Regions from separate parts of the Homo sapiens genome. Here region 1 is linked to region 2. Evidence: fine-mapped expression QTL. A gene starts in region 2. The other region holds a variant in brackets. All regions are shown on one strand. Distances are between the middles of the regions. Region 1 overlaps PSG3 (pregnancy specific beta-1-glycoprotein 3). Region 2 holds the start of CEACAM1 (CEA cell adhesion molecule 1).

The links. PIP is the estimated chance that this variant, and not a neighbour inherited with it, causes the effect. A credible set is the group of variants that fine-mapping cannot tell apart.
Region 1: its variant is the best candidate, but not a certain one, in a credible set for the expression of CEACAM1 in whole blood (INTERVAL, PIP 0.63).

Annotation. Positions count from the first base shown.
Region 1 is chr19:42,723,436-42,727,830 of GRCh38, reverse strand. It overlaps PSG3 (pregnancy specific beta-1-glycoprotein 3), which reads left to right. Exons shown (of 7, transcript NM_021016.4): 6 at 3,806-3,889. The coding sequence ends at 3,849. Among named protein-coding and RNA genes, the nearest start is that of PSG3, 15 kb to the left of the region's middle. The variant C/T (reference allele first, on the strand shown) is at 2,108.
Region 2 is chr19:42,526,753-42,531,147 of GRCh38, reverse strand. CEACAM1 (CEA cell adhesion molecule 1) reads left to right here and starts at 2,667. Exons shown (of 9, transcript NM_001712.5): 1 at 2,667-2,837; 2 at 3,748-4,107. The coding sequence starts at 2,774. The region is part of intron 2 of LIPE-AS1 (LIPE antisense RNA 1); the gene reads right to left. RefSeq lists enhancers at 1,505-2,367, 2,590-2,659.

The DNA.
Region 1 (4,395 bases), 200 kb before region 2:
TCTGAACATCAGTTTACAAATATTTGTTCAAATTTCTTTCAATTCTATGGGGATTATGTCCAGAAGTGGAATTGCTGGATCAAATGGTAATTTATTGTTTAATTTTTTGAGAGAGAGCCACACCACTTCTTACAGTGGCTATAACATTTCCCATTCCCATCAGCAATGCACTAGAGCTCCAATTTTTCCATCTACTTGAAAACACCTGTTGTTTTGTGTTGCTGTCATTGTTGTTGTTTATCAAAACCATCCTAAAGTGTGTGAGGTGGTGTAACAATGTGGTTTTGATTTGCATATCTCCAAGTATTCCTGATGCTGAGGAACTTTGCATGGGCTTATTTGATATTTGTATATCTTCCTTGGAGAAAACTCCATTTTAATCCTTTGTTCATTTTTTAATTGGGTTTTTGGATGTTTGCTGTTGTTGACTTGTAGCTTTTCATGTATTCTGGAAATTAATTTCTTATCACACATATAATTTGCAAATATTTTTATCATTTCGTGGGTTGCTTTTTACTTTCTTGATAGTGTTCTTTGATATATAAAAGGTTTTGATTTTTATGAAGTCCGATTTATCCATTTTATTTGTTGCCTATGCTTTTGTTGTTACAACCAGGAAATCATTGTGAAATCCAGTATCATGAAGCTTTTCTTCTAAGAGTTGAATAGTTTTTGCCCTTACATTTAGATCTTTGATCTATTGTGGGTTACTTTTTGTACATGGTGTTAGGTAAAGGTTCCACTGTTCTTGCCCTTGGATATCCACCTTTCCCAATATCATTTGGTGAGAAAACGGTCCCTTCCCCATTGAACGATCTTGGCACACTCGATGAAAATCATTTGGCCATATATGCAAGCATTTCTTTCTGGGTTATTATATTTCATTAATTTCTATGTCCTCCTTTATGCCAGTACCACAGTGTATTGATTACTGGGGCTTTGTAGTAAATGCTGAAATCAGGAAGTGTGAGTCCTCCAGCTTCATTCTTCCTCTTCAAAGCTGTGTGTCTATTTAGAGTCATGAGATGCAATATAAATTTTAGGACAGATTTTTTTTTACTGCAAAAATGTCACTGAGATTCTGATAGGAATTTTATTGAATCTGCAGCTCACGTCAGGTAGCACTGTCCTCCTAACAATATTGAGTCTTCCAATTCATGAAAACAAAATGTCTTTCAATTTATTGATGTCATCTTTCATTTCTTTCAGCCATATTTTGTAGATTTCAGGTATAATCATTTTACCTCTTTGGTTAAACTCATTCCTAAATATTTTATTCTTTTTGATGTTAATATAAATTGAAATTTTTTTTCTTAATTTCCCTTCAGATTGTTCATGGTTAGTGTATTGAAATACAACTGATGTTTGAATGTTGATTTTGTATTGTGCAACATTACTGAATTTATTTATTAATTCTAATAGGTTTGTTCCATCTTTAGGATTTTCTACATATAAGTTCAAGTTATCTGTAAACAGAAATAATTTTACTCCTTCCTTCCAATTTTAACGTCTTTTTTTAAATTCTTGCCTAATTTTTCTGACTAGACCTTTCAATACTATGTTGAATAAAAGTGTCAAAAGCAGGCACCCTTGTCTTGTTCCTGCTCATACAGGGAAAGCTTTCAGTCTTTCTCCGTTGAGTATGATGTTAGCATTGGGTTTTTCACATATTGCCTTTACGTTGAGGTGGTTTCCTTCCCTTCTTAGAAAGTTTTTATTATGAAAAAATATTGAATTTCATCAAATGTTTTATTGATTCAATCTTATTACTGATTATAGTTCCATTCATATTTTTGTGTGTTTCTAGGGGTTTGTCTACTTCATCTAGGTTATCCAATTTATTGGCATACAATTATTTATAGTACTTTCATAATCATTAGTTTATTAGAATTGGTAGTAATCGCTTCATTTTTCTTTTTTCTTTTTTTTTTTTTTTTTTTGGTTGTTGTTGTTGAAGAGAGAGAGACAGGCTCTCACTCTGTAGGCCAGCCCAGGATGGAATACAGTGGTGTGATTATGGCTCACTGCAGCCTCAACCTCCTGGGCTCAAGTAATTCTCCTTCTTCAGCCTCCCAAGATGCTAGGACTACAGGTGCATGTCACCATG[C/T]GCAGCTAATTGGCTTTTTTATTTTTTTGTAGAGACAGGGTCTCCCCAGGTTACCTATGCTGGTCCAAACACCTGGTCTCAAGAAATCCTTCTGCTGTGACTTCCCAAAGTGCTAGGATTAAAACATGACCCACCATGCTCAGAGTCCATTTTCATTTCTGATTTTAGGAATTTTAAACTTTTCTCTTTTTTTCTTAGTCAATCTAGTTAATGGTTGTCAATTTTGTTGATTTTATTTTGAAGAATCAACTTTTGGTTTCATTAATTTCCTCTATTCTTTTTCCATTCTCCATTTTATTTATATCCACTCTAATCCTTATTTTTCCCTCATTCACTGTGCTTGGGTTTAGTTTGTTCTTCTTTCATATCCTGAAGTATTAAAGTAGGTTGTTGACCTGAGATCTTTCTTCTTTTTTAATGTAAGAGTTTACAGTTATAAATTTCTTGCACAAGACTCAATTTCTCTGAACCTCTGATACCTCACCTGAAAACTGCAATAAGAGTGCTTTCTTCATACCTTTCTTTTAAAGGTTTAATGCAGTCAATAAAACGAGATGCCACACACAGTGGAACCAATGTCAGCTGCTATATGACTACCATCATCATTAGCCTAGAGGTCAAATAGTCCTAGAATCAAATCTCAGATCCACCTGTCACTAGCCATATGACACCAGGAAAGTTTTACACCACTCTAAGCTTCTGTCTTTTCATCGGCAAAATGGAAATAATGTCTACCTCACAGGGTTATTGTGTGGATTAAATGAGATACAGGGAAAGTATTTAGCACAGGGCCTGGCACATAGGAAGTGCCCCTCAACAGTACCTTCCTTTTTCCATATATATATATATGGAAAAAGAGGTAACACATAAAACACTAGGACATGGTTACTGACTACTTGTGGGAGAGAAAGAAAAAAAGCTAAGTGCAAAGAATCAAGCCTGGTATGTTAGTTTTTACTGACTGAGATGCATCCAAGATGGGATTAGACATACAAGATAACTTATCAGGGAAGACACCTGTGAGGGAATGTGGGGCAGGCATGAAGGTAGTACGGGAGAACCCACAGACCACTATGCAGAGCTGATTCCTGTGAAAAAGAAAGAGAAAGAAGTTTTAGGTACCAATTCAATTATAAGAGTTTTTGCAAGGCTGATGGGGAATCCTCCAACCAGTCACCCATTAGAGTTAAAGAGAGCCTCAGAGAACTAGACTTGCTTTCACGCCCTTGCTGGGAGCCTGTAGGAAAGAAGCTTTCTGTGCAAAGGAGGTGGTGAATTTGAAATGCACTGACCTGGGCCTTCTGTCAATCAAGTCTCTGCCATGGAGACCTGGCAGGGTCTCATTCATGACTGCCACAACAGAGACACTGAGAAAAAGATGCAACCATGAAAAGGTGCAAAGGTGGCAAGTTCTAATGACATAGAAAATAGCAATCAGCCTTTCTCACATCTGAAAGCCTTCCAAATATCTGAGCACAGTAGAGAATTGACAGAGGACTGATCACCAACTGAGAAACAGGGTGAGAGGGAAAAAAAAACTGCAAGAATATAATCATCTCCTATCAATTTTCCAACAGAAATAACGTAGTCCTTGAAGAAACAATTATAGAGTACCTCATGTTACATGCTTGTTCCTGAGGCTCCCCCATGTAAAATAACATCATCTTCATTCCTTCTTTTCTTTTTTTTCCATGACAGCTCCTTCAGGAACAGGACATCTTCCTGGCCTTAATCCATTATAGCAGCCGTGATGTCATTTCTGTATTTCAGGAAGACTGGCAGGTATGATGACCTTTCCTCTTATCCTGGTTCCTGCAGGGCTAACTGCCATGCTTGGGAGAGGGAAAAGACTTATTTGCCTGTATCTGGGACTGGATCTCCTCCTTCCTCCACTAACTCCTGCTTCTCAGCACTAATTCCTGCAGTTCCCTTTCTCCCTGGCCTTTATGCTCCCTGTACCCCACTGTCTTTTAGACATAATTATCTCCAGCCTCTCTCTCTGCTCATTTGTTTCTCAGATTCAAATGAAAAACACAATTTCACATGGTGAAACCCTCTTCATTATTTTTAACATCTCTCAATAGTGTAATTCTCTCCATTCCCATAAAGCTCAACCACTTCTCAAAGTATTGCTTGACTTCTTGTCTCCAGACTTTGAAATCTTCCTTGCATATGACTGCCTCATTACCTTTCTAAAATCTAGTTAATTCACTTAATCAAGAATCTCCAGGGGTCTACTCTAGCCACTTTGATAAGTTCACATTTCTTCTATTTACTAAGCCTTCTCA
Region 2 (4,395 bases):
ATTCAATATCCCCTTTCTAGCTACTTGGAACTATATATTATTGTTAACTATAGTCAGGCCGGTTGCAGTGGGTCACACCTATAATCTTAGCACTTTGGAAGGCCGAGACGGGAGGATTGCTTGAGCCCAGGAGCTCGAGACCAGCCTGACCAACATAATAAGATCAGTCTCTACAAAAAAATCAAAACACTTGGCTGGGCATGGTGGCTGTAATCCTAGAACTTTGGGAGGCCTAGGCGGAGGATCACTTGAGCTTAGGAGTTCAAGGCCAGCCTGGGCAACATAGTGATACCCTGTCTCTTTATTTAAAAAAAAATTGAAAAATAAAACAAAAAATTAGCCAGGCGTGGTGGCGTGCACCTATAGTTCCAGCTACATGGGAGACTGAGGCAGGAAGATCACCTGATCGCAGGAGGTTGAGGCTGCAGTGTACTCCAGACCCTGTCTCAAAAAAAAAAAAAAATCTGTAGTCATCCTACAGTGGTATAGAACATTAGAACTTATTCCTCCTCCTATCTAGCTGTATTTTTTTTTTTTTTTTTTTTTGAGACGGAGTCTCGCTCTGTCGCCCAGGCCGGACTGCGGACTGCAGTGGCGCAATCTCGGCTCACTGCAAGCTCCGCTTCCCAGGTTCACGCCATTCTCCTGCCTCAGCCTCCCGAGTAGCTGGGACTACAGGCGCCCGCCACCGCGCCCGGCTAATTTTTTGTATTTTTAGTAGAGACGGGGTTTCACCTTGTTAGCCAGGATGGTCTCGATCTCCTGACCTCATGATCCACCCGCCTCGGCCTCCCAAAGTGCTGGGATTACAGGCGTGAGCCACCGCGCCTGGCCTTATTTTTTTTTAAGATGGAGTCTCACTCTGTCGCCACACTGAAGTGCAATGGTGCAATCTTGGCTCATTGCAACCTCTGCCTCCCGGGTTCCAGTGATTCTCCTGCCTCAGCCTCCAAGTAGCTGGGACTACAGGTGCCCACGACCACACCTGGCTAATTTTTTGTATTTTTAGTAGAGACGGGGTTTCACCATGTTGGCCAGGATGGTCTCAATCTCTTGACCTCATGATCCACCCGCCTCGGCCTCCCAAAGTGCTGGGATTACAGGCATGAGCCACTGTGCCCGGCCTATCTAGCTGTAATTTTATATCCTTTAACACATCTTTCCCTGTCCCTCCCTTCCTCTACCCTTCCCAGCCTCTGGTATGCTCTGTTCTACTTTTTCCTTCCATGAGATCAACTGTTTTTAGGTTCCACATATTAGTAAGAACATGTGATGTTTAACTTTCTGTTCCTAGCCCACTTCCATTCATGTTGCCACATGTGACAGGATTTCATTCTCAAGCCCCCAAAGGCACCTCACTGGGCCTTTGTTTTTTTGTTTTGTTTTGTTTTTGCTTTTGTTTTTCAAACCTCTGGGACAGATGGCTCCTTCTAAGGCAGCCCATCCCCCTGGTGGACAGTTCTCTCCAATCTTGACAGAAGTCCTCTGGACAACTCACGTCCTCTCCCTGGGCTCATCCTGCACCGCATGGAGCTGGGCAGCCTGGGGACCCGCAGTGAACAGGACCTGGGGTGACTTGACCTTGAAGCCTGGAGGTCAGAGCCCACATCTGCCCAGGGGTCAGGGCCAGCTCACATCATGTAGACCCTGGTCAGCATCCCTGGGGCAGCCCTTGACAAGGCTGCAGGCCTTGTCTTGCCCTCCAGGGGGAGACATTGCACACAGACAACACTCAGGAAACATTCCCCTGGTCATGAACCTGGCTTTGCTAAGGAGGTGAAGGTAGAGCCCACTTTCCATCCCTTGCTCCAAAACACCCTTCCAGGCCCTCCCATGTACCTGCTCTGTCCCTTCCTGGGTCCTCTGAGGACCCTGTTCTGTGAGGGGTCCCTGTGCAGCTCCCCATTCCCTCCTGGCACCACCTGTGGGGAAGGTGCGGTGACCACAGGACAATCAGCCTCGCAGAGGACAGAGACCACCCAGGATGGTCAGGGAGAACATGGACAGGCCTTGAGCCTCAGCTCAAGGGAGGGAGGGTCCCCCTGAAGTCTTCCCCAAGGACAGTAGAGCCCAGAGCCACCCACCTCCCTCTATCACAGTCCTCTCTTCCCAGGACACACAGGACACCTCCCCCTCCATATCCGGGAGCTGCAGCTCCACCTGAGACCCCTGGACTTGGGTCTCTGTCCCTGGGTTAGAGGCCAGGCTGGTGACACTAGAGACAGAGGGCTGGTCCCTCCCCAGTCATCCCCCAGTGAGCCCCTTTCCATCCCCCAGAGCCACCTCTGTCACCTTCCTGCTGGGTGTCTTCCTACCTTCCCAGCACACTGAAGAGCATGGGGAGACCTGGCAGCTCACTGTGTTGCAAAGAAAATAATTACCACATTTGGATATGCCAGGGTTCTCTGTGTGCTGCTGACAGACCCATAGCCAGGACACAATAGAGGTCAGTGCTGGAGAGGGGGGATCCTCCTCCCCTGATGGGGACAGAGGTCTCATCAGCCTTGATTCTCAAAGTGTGGTCTGGGAAACCAAAATGTAGACAGAAAGGAAAGAGAAAGTAAGGACAAAGGTAGGAATGAGAGGAGAGGAAACAGAGCTTCCTGGACAAACCCCGCCCCAGCACACATGATCAGACAAAGCTCTGGGCCCCAGGGAGGAGGCTCAGCACAGAGAGTGGAAAACAGCAGAGGTGACAGAGCAGCCGTGCTCGAAGCGTTCCTGGAGCCCAAGCTCTCCTCCACAGGTGAAGACAGGGCCAGCAGGAGACACCATGGGGCACCTCTCAGCCCCACTTCACAGAGTGCGTGTACCCTGGCAGGGGCTTCTGCTCACAGGTGAGGGGAGGACACCCTGGGAAGGGGCGGAAAGAGGGCGCACAGAGAATGGCTAGGGTCCTCTGGGGAGGATGGAGCTCTAAGAGGGGACAGAGGGCTTCTCTTGGAGCCAAATAGGAGAGAGGACATGAAAGGGATAGAGATCATAAAAGGAAAGTCTCAGTGATCTGAAACTGTTAGTGAATAAACAATCTCCCATTTTTTACCTTTTCCAACTGAATCATCAATGAGCAATAAATTTCAAAAACTGCTGACAATAATCACAATTTAAGTCAGCGTGACAATTAAGGAAAACATTTTAAAAGGGGCATTAAACAGAGCCCTGAGCCACCAACCTCAGATATTGGCAAATAAACCCCAGGACATGAAGAGCCCTGGGAATGCTCACTAACTCATCCACAGGAGTCTGCAGCCTATCCCAGGCACTGGGGTGCAACCAACATCACACAAATCCCTGCCCTCACGGAGCTCACGCTCTCATGGGTGGGGAAGACAGACAAGCAAAGAGATCTAGAATGTGAGGTCAGGTGTTGACAAGAGCCCTGGAGGGAACAGAGCAGAAAAAGGTCAGAAAGGGAATACCCAGGGTCTCTAGGGGAGGTGTCAGGGAAAGGATCTCCCAAGAGCACCCTGATGTGATCAAGATCTGAGGGCAGTGGGGAGGGAGCCATGCGGATCCCTGGGGAAGGGCATTCCAGAGAAATGACAAGGTCAGAGGCACTAAGGGAATGGGAGTCACACTGCTGACCTTGACCCAGTAGGACACACACACACACACACACACACACACACACACACACACACACTCCAAGGTGGAGGGGTGAAGACACCTGCTCAGGACCCAAGGCCCCATTTTTCTACCCTAATGCATAGGTCCCAATATTGACTGATGCTCTCTCCTCTCTCCTAGCCTCACTTCTAACCTTCTGGAACCCGCCCACCACTGCCCAGCTCACTACTGAATCCATGCCATTCAATGTTGCAGAGGGGAAGGAGGTTCTTCTCCTTGTCCACAATCTGCCCCAGCAACTTTTTGGCTACAGCTGGTACAAAGGGGAAAGAGTGGATGGCAACCGTCAAATTGTAGGATATGCAATAGGAACTCAACAAGCTACCCCAGGGCCCGCAAACAGCGGTCGAGAGACAATATACCCCAATGCATCCCTGCTGATCCAGAACGTCACCCAGAATGACACAGGATTCTACACCCTACAAGTCATAAAGTCAGATCTTGTGAATGAAGAAGCAACTGGACAGTTCCATGTATACCGTGAGTATTTCCCCATGACCTCTGGGTGTTGGGGGGTTAGTTCTACTTCCCACACATGGGATTGTCAGGCCTGGGCTGTGCCTGTGTCCTCCTCTGCATTATACCCCATGTTAAGGTTTGAGCATCTAGTGCAGGACACACTATGGGACAGACATCAAAATACCGAATGTCTTACTCTGGAGTCCTGATCCTGCAGACATTTGCTTCAGAGGAAGGACAATCTGATGTGGGTAACTTATCGAGGGGAGACCAGTCTCAATCTAGCCCCCCGGGACCCTCCTGGTGAAC